Regions from separate parts of the Homo sapiens genome. Here region 2 is reported to be linked to region 1. The links are microRNA targets in miRTarBase. Many come from high-throughput screens and were not tested one by one. Region 1 holds a microRNA gene; the other region holds the end of a gene's coding sequence.
Evidence for each region. Region 1 holds the annotated microRNA hsa-miR-3606-3p (AAAAUUUCUUUCACUACUUAG, at 2,197-2,217, shown strand). A microRNA usually pairs through its seed, bases 2 to 8, with sites in the 3' UTR of a target mRNA and lowers its output. Matches are read on the target gene's strand: a 7mer-m8 pairs with bases 2 to 8, a 7mer-A1 pairs with bases 2 to 7 and ends in A, and an 8mer does both.

Region 2: miRTarBase lists NGDN as a target of hsa-miR-3606-3p. The part of its 3' UTR that is shown has no 7-base or 8-base seed match.

Annotation. Positions count from the first base shown.
Region 1 is chr2:188,993,475-188,997,474 of GRCh38, forward strand. MIR3606 (microRNA 3606) reads left to right here and starts at 2,156; the gene lies at 2,156-2,218. It overlaps COL3A1 (collagen type III alpha 1 chain), which reads left to right. Exons shown (of 51, transcript NM_000090.4): 17 at 564-608; 18 at 760-858; 19 at 1,067-1,120; 20 at 1,250-1,357; 21 at 1,572-1,625; 22 at 2,218-2,316; 23 at 2,651-2,704; 24 at 2,924-3,022; 25 at 3,691-3,744; 26 at 3,862-3,915.
Region 2 is chr14:23,477,573-23,481,633 of GRCh38, forward strand. It overlaps NGDN (neuroguidin), which reads left to right. Exons shown (of 11, transcript NM_001042635.2): 11 at 435-601. The coding sequence ends at 454. Among named protein-coding and RNA genes, the nearest start is that of NGDN, 9.9 kb to the left of the region's middle.

The DNA.
Region 1 (4,000 bases):
GAGAGGGAGTAAGCATAGTTTCATGCTTACTCCATGAAAGCATAGTTTCATGCTTACTCCATGAAAGCATGTGCTTCAATATGGCTATCAGTGAAAATTACTTTGAAAAAATTGTTGCTTAGTGCTCTAAAATGATCCTCCTGTGACACATACTGATTTGATTAGTAGTAAAAATGATAGTTTTTGACTGTTGCACTATTCCAGAATTCATGATTTTTTATGTTTATATAAAAGAATAGAGGATAGACTAGTTTTCTGATGCTTTCAAGAATGTGCCCCAAGCTAATCACCAATCATAAAAATTCAGAGAAGAACCAAATTCAAAATCTCTTCTATTTATGTATCATTTAATAATTTATACGAAGTACATATTATCTCTAATTTATTTAGATAATGATGATTCTTTTGACCACATTTCATATGTTGTGTTATAGTTGGAGGATTCACTTAATCTCTACAAAGCATAACACTCATCGATACATTTATTTTCACACAAACAACTTCAAATATATACGAACTATTTGCATTACTATTAATACATTATCTGTTTTTTGTATACTTAGGGCCCTCCTGGGATTAATGGTAGTCCTGGTGGTAAAGGCGAAATGGTAAGCTGTCCCCACTCCTCAGCCTTATCTCATCCACACATTACTGGCTTCTTTTGCATTTTGCATGACAATAGATTTGTGATATTTAAGTGAGATATTCATAAAAGAACATTCAAGTTCGGCTAATATAGTGTCTTTGGTTTGTTCTTAGGGTCCCGCTGGCATTCCTGGAGCTCCTGGACTGATGGGAGCCCGGGGTCCTCCAGGACCAGCCGGTGCTAATGGTGCTCCTGGACTGCGAGGTGGTGCAGTAAGTTGCCTTGTTTTTTCTCTGTTGACTGAAAGGTATAGTTTAATTCCATCAACAAAAAATTAATAGCAAAATTTTGCTCCTGTTCAGTTGAATTTATATTGACTTCACTCTTGTCTTATAACTTATAACTGAATTATGTGTTACTGGTGATGATTTGTTAGTCGAATCCTCCCTGTGTTTCAACCAAGACTTTGTTATACTTTAGGGTGAGCCTGGTAAGAATGGTGCCAAAGGAGAGCCCGGACCACGTGGTGAACGCGTAAGTTTTACTGCAACAGATCTGGTTATTTCTTGAAAAAATGCAACATAATTAGAAAGTAAACAGGTAAAAACTTTGAACTAAATTCAGTCATAATTTCTTTATTTTACCATCTTTTTTTTTTTTCAGGGTGAGGCTGGTATTCCAGGTGTTCCAGGAGCTAAAGGCGAAGATGGCAAGGATGGATCACCTGGAGAACCTGGTGCAAATGGGCTTCCAGGAGCTGCAGGAGAAAGGGTACGTTTTCCATGGGGCATCTAAAAGAAAAGCAGCATCACTGTCATCTAAATAAAACTACCTTCAGGGTGAGACAGCCAATTTTTCTTAAGTTGAGTGTTCAGTGAAAATATTGTTTAAAGCATTCTATGACATAAAAATATTTGCCACTCAAGAATTATGAAAAAGAATTGAAATCCTTTGGACTGAAATACTTGTCTTTCATTATTTTCAGGGTGCCCCTGGGTTCCGAGGACCTGCTGGACCAAATGGCATCCCAGGAGAAAAGGTAGATAACTTTAGTTTCTATGTTCCTAAATGCTAGCACCACAAATGGGCAGTTCTTGTATACAATTTCTCATTCATGAAAACCTAAATATCTGAAGAATATATATTAGAGTTAAGAAAAATTCCTAATATAATGCATCCTCTGTTCAACAACTTTCCTGGCTTTGTAACTAAAGCCACTTACTTACCCTCTATGAGAATCCTTTACTTATCTGTTAATTGGAAAGCATTTATCTGAGCATCGTTGCAAGAGTACAGTAAACTAAAATGCCTGAAAAGTCTTTGAAAACTCTAAGGTTACATCAAATATGATTTCATAGCATTAAGATATTTGATTTTAGCTGCACATAATTATATTTTTAAGCACAGTGAATACTGTTTTATTAAGCATGTGATGTTCACAAAGTTGCTTTAAAATTTTTTCAATATGGCAATCCAAGCTAAGATAACTGATTTTATGTATAAATGTTTCAGCAACACACGAACCCTTTTTAAAAGTTCAAATGACGTCCTCTCTTTGTAACCAAAATATTGTTGCTATCTAGGTTAGTGAAGGCTATTTTAATTTTTTTAAAATTTCTTTCACTACTTAGGGTCCTGCTGGAGAGCGTGGTGCTCCAGGCCCTGCAGGGCCCAGAGGAGCTGCTGGAGAACCTGGCAGAGATGGCGTCCCTGGAGGTCCAGGAATGAGGGTACAGAGAAACATTTGTTTGAATGACACTTTAATTTAGACAGAAGAAAGGCAAGACAAATGAAGACAGATCAAAAGCAACTTAAATCAATCAGATTACATATTTTGTAAGGCACCAAACAAAACAAAATTCTTTTAAGTAAACTTAAGCCGAGATAGTTCAAGGAGAAGAGAAGATAGAACACTTGCCTTAGATACTTTATAGACAGGAAAAAAGATGTGCAAATCTGAGGCTTCACATGTAAGTGAAAATATCAAAATCATACAAATAGTGTATGTAGTAATTTTTTATTATTTCATTTTAAATCACCTAACAACTGACTTCTTTACTTCAGGGCATGCCCGGAAGTCCAGGAGGACCAGGAAGTGATGGGAAACCAGGGCCTCCCGTATGTACATTTTTAAAATCTCATTTTAAAAGGCCAGTTAAAATGGAATGTATATGTTGGCCTATCCTTGAGTGTGTGTGTGTGTGTGTGTGTATATATATATATGTATATGTATATCTATATATATACACACACACACACACACACACATACTATATATATAGCATGCTTTAATCTTCTCTTTATCAAACCTTTATTAATGTAATTTTTTCTTATTAGGGAAGTCAAGGAGAAAGTGGTCGACCAGGTCCTCCTGGGCCATCTGGTCCCCGAGGTCAGCCTGGTGTCATGGGCTTCCCCGGTCCTAAAGGAAATGATGTGAGTTCCTTCATTAATTTCTTCAATAAATATTTGACTGGAAGGCTTTTATTTTCCATATGGAGTAAAGAAATGGTCAAAACTCAGTCTCCTCTTCAAAGCATGGAGGAGTATATGAAAATCAAATTGCATGTAGGAAGGGAGCTAAATATATAATTGGTTATGGTTGTATGTGTGTGTATGGAGCAGGCAGATAAAAAATATGAAACAGGCTGGGTGCGCTGGCTCACGCCTGTAATCCCAGCACTCTGGGAGGCCAAGGCAGGCAGATCACCTGAGGTCAGGAGTTCTAGGCCAGCCTTGCCAACATGGTGAAACCCTGTCTCCACTAAAAATACAAAAATTAGCCAGGCATGGTGGCATGTGCCTGTAATCCTAGCTACCCAGGAGGCTGAGGCAAGAGAATCACTAGAACCCGGGGGGCAGAGGCTACAGTGAGCCAAGATTGCGCCACTGCACTCCAGCCTGGGCGACAGAGCAAGACTCAGTCTCAAAAATATGTATGTGTGTGTGTGTATATATATATATGAGACATATATATATGAGACATATATATATGAGACATATATATATGAGACATATATATATGAGACATATATATATGAGACAATAATATGATTAGTTATTGCCCTTTGAGGATTAGTAAATACCGACCACTTCTTCTTTAGGGTGCTCCTGGTAAGAATGGAGAACGAGGTGGCCCTGGAGGACCTGGCCCTCAGGTACGTAGCTTTCCTCAATTTATTTCTAGCCTTCTAATAGATGCGTTCATCTCCAACCTTCTGACTTCTCTCTGTAATCTGTATTATTTCTACTTCCCTAACTGTTCTTGTTTTTAGGGTCCTCCTGGAAAGAATGGTGAAACTGGACCTCAGGGACCCCCAGGGCCTACTGTAAGTTCACTCATATAAAATTGGAGATGAAAATAGGGTGGAGGTGGGGCAGGAAGAATGCTTCAAAAATTACATAATCTCTGAC
Region 2 (4,061 bases), not on the chromosome of region 1:
CTGGGACTTAGGTGATCAGGTGCAAGGTGGGGAGTACAAATTGAGTCTCTTTGGATTTGCCATTCTGGGTCTCACCAAGCCCTGTAGTATCTCTTCCATACTGGGCAATAATCTCCTTAGGTGGGCTTTTATTTTTTGCTTTCCTGAGCTGGAAATCAGCATCATTCACAAAATGAATCTCTGGATTCTGCCTCTAAGGTCCCACAGCTCCTGTTCAGGCTTCCCTAAATAGAACTGGTAAAGTGTCACTTGAAGGAACCATTATCCCATTTCAATTTTATTCCTACTTCTCGTCTTTTGTCCTGGGAAGATATTCAGGGTACTGCCTAGGAGACCCCACCCCTGTGAGCCCTTCCCTCTAGATGTCCTGTTTTCCTGTCCCTTTAGCTTTTCCAACTGTCCTTTGCCTCATTCTTGGTTTCCCTTCCTTTCAGGTTTTCGGAGGCGGCGGTGATTATGGGTGTACATATTTGTATATTTTTTGTCATCCTGAGATACTTCTAATTTCATTGTATATAGGTGGTTTTCCCTGGAATTCATTAATTGTTTGCTTTGGACATGTGGAAAGAGCCTTACTAATAAAATTGATTTTGCTTATGAATTAAAGCCCCTTTTTGCACATGTATTGTACGACTGGAGTCGTTGGGTTTGGGATATTTTTGGTGAGTGGTTGGTGAAAAGGGAAATTTTTTTTGGAAGTGCAAAACATTTGTATTGTTTTCTTTGATAATATATTTTTCCCAAAAACTAAAAATTGGTTACGTCACAAAAAGTATTGAGAGACGAGGCTGGTATAATCAACTCTTTCAACCCATGTTGCCACAACTTCCTGTATGATTTGTTATAATACAATACAGATTGAGATATTAACACATGAATTTTAGGTTTTATTAGTGTTATCTGGGCTGGCCACCAGGTGGCATAAGTGGTTCAAGAAACTTGAGCTTGGCTGTAATCAAAAGCAAGATAGAACCTTTCCACATCAGCAAGATTATTCTTATCTCCACTTCTCTGAATGTTTTTCATTTCTTTCTGAAATAGCATGAACATAAGGCTGATCTTTGGTCAGTTACTGAGGGAGTTTGTAGAAAATAGTAGAGTGAGTAAGAAGGCTAGAGTGAAGAGTCAGTATAGTCTTGTGTTTTTCAGACTCTGACCCCCACCCCCCCGCCTTCAACTGAGGGTCATTTTACCAGAGTCAATAAAGGCCAACCCTTCTATAAAGAGCTGGCAAAAAAAAAAAAAAAAAAAAAATGCCAGCAGACAAGCAGAACATTCCTAGCTTAACAGCCAAACAAATGAAAATCCCACAGAAATAATTAGCCAAACTCAAGCCAGGAGACTGGTGGGCGTTATACATCTGAGATCTTGTATTCTAATGAGAGAATAACCTCTGTTGGTGAGATGTCCCACAGGCCTTGGATAATACAGAAAGTGAAAAAAGGGATTAAAAAAAGATAGAAGTTGGGTCTGTAGAATTAATTCATTGGAGTTTTTAAAAAAGGCTTTGGGTCTCATGAACATCTGATTTTAATGTCTAGTATTGCTGGGTTATATCGATAGACAAATTAATTTGGGTTATATGACTAAAACCTCGTTGATTCTGAATTTCTGAATTTGGATTTATACTATTCAGCCTGATTGGGGCAGGGGTCTTTCACTCAGCTGCCGCTTGGTAGAAAGTAGTTAGGAGACTGGACCTATGGCTGTCTTAGGCTAATTCTGTGATCTTGGGCAAATCACTTAATATCCCTGGCCTTTAATTTTCCTCAGCTAAGGAATGTATTAGACTTCATCTGTGAGATTCCCTTCAAGTCAAAGAGCCTAGAGCTTTTGTGCATGACACCAAGATGGGCTTATGTCTGGGGCCGCTAACCTTTAGTCCCTGATAGATCTGAGAGAGTCTCACATGCCCTGGGCTCTCATACTTCTGTTTCCTCAAGGGAATCTAAACAAAGAGCCACAAGAACAGATTTAGAGACTTTTTTTCCTTTATGGCTGAACTAACTAGATGAGTGATTCAGTTCAAAAATACTTTAGTTAAAACCACTTCATTTGCTTGTTAGGACCACTATATTTGTTTCTAATTTATTAAGATTTGTGGATTATGGGAACTTCCAGGGGAAGGGAAGTGCTCTTTAAAAAACAAAACAAAACAAAACAAAACAAAACAGGTACTACCTTCTGGCCAGGTGTGGTGGCTCATATCTATAATCTGGACACTTTGGGAGGCTGGGTCAGGAGGATAGTTTGAGGCCAGAGAGTTCAAGACCAGCATGTTTAACACAACAAGACCCTGTCTCTAAAAAAAAATAAAAATAAAAAAATTAGGCAGGTGTGGTGGCGTGTGTCTGTAGTCCCAGCTGCTTGGGAGACTGAGGCAGGGGTATTGCCTAAGCCCTGGAGTTTGAGCTTGCTGTGAGCTATGATCTTACCACTGCATTCCAGACTGAATGATAGTAAGACCCATCAAAAAAAAAAAAAAAATTCCTGTGCTATAGGCTGAGCTAAGTGCTTTATACTTAATCCTTATAAATTTTTTTTTTTTTTTTTGAGATGGAGTCTCACTCTGTTGCCCAGGCTGGAGTGCAGTGGCGTGATCTCCGCTGACTGCAACCTCTGCCTCCTGGGTTCAAGCGATTCTCCTGTCTCAGCCTCCTGAGTAGCTGGGACTATAGCCACGTGCCACCACACCTGGCTAATTTTTTGTATTTTAGTGGAGACAGGGTTTCACTGTGTTAGCCGGGATAGTCTCAATCTCCTGACCTCGTGATCCACCCACCTTGGCCTCCCAAAGTGCTGGGATTACAGGTATGAGCCACCACGCCTGGCAATCCTTATAAAATTTATGAAATCTCCATTTTACTAGTGAGGAAGCTTAGACACTTAGGGCAAACAATTTTTCCTGAGTTGGAGAACCAGTGCTTGGGGAACACTGAGGATGGAGGACTTCAAGTGTCCTGTGGTTCATGAAAATCTTCAGGGTTAAAAAATCTTTTTTTATTTGTAGGTGGTTTATAATCTAGCTCCCCCGCCCTACTGCCCCATTTCTGTTACAGGCCTCGTCTTCAAAGAAACCCTAAGTTCCACAATTCTGGTCTCTTTGTGGTATACCAGTGAACACAGCAGACAAAATCCCTGCCTTTGTGGACCTTATATTAATTCAATCAAGTCTTTAATCCCAGGACATTTTGTTTTCCCTGGCTTTTAGGCATTATTTGAAAGAAGTTTCTGGTAAAAAGTTGAACTATTTCTGAGAATATTTGTACCAGAGTCATCAAACACTGTTTAGAGTGTATTGTTTGATGGAGTATTACATGGATTCTCAATATGTAAAACAAGCATAAGTGGGGTTACTTTGATTGAAGTGGGAATGAGGGGTCCTGAAGTTCCATGTTCTTATGACCCCCTTTCCCCAAGATTCCTGAGGAGCCCCCAAGGAACCTTTAGAATTCCTTAGAATATAGTTTGAAAACAACTGTTAGGGTAGTAGAACAAGGGAACTAAGAACTAGAATTTTAGGATTTCGTTATGGCTGTTCTGGTCACTTTTTTTCTTTCCCTTATTCCTACTAATAGATTCAGTTATCTGATTATTCAGACCATATGAATATCGGATTTCCTCAGTGTATTGCTGACAACAGATCATTTCTGGTGTTCACTAAGTAATAGCTGTCATTAATGCACACATGAGCACCTTACCTGTTTGGTTTTATCATGTGATGGTTTTGTCATGTGATAGCTTTATTCTGTAGAAGTAATTTACATCTCTGCCTCATTCTTTTCATCTTAGGGGACAGGGAAGAGAGTTTGACCAAGGTCTGTCTTTGCCTTAAAATCATTGTTTTGTTAGGATTTTATGAAGGCTTGGGGAAATGTCTATTGGGAATTCACAACAGTCTTCATAGATACCTTATTAGGAAAACTGTGTTTTGTTTGCAGGGGAGATTATTAGTGTGTCAATTTTCAGCACCATGGAGAGTTCAAACGCTCCTCATTCCTTGGTTTGGTGAATGGGACACAGCTAAACCATAGAGCTGCGTGGTGTAGACCTGCCCTTTT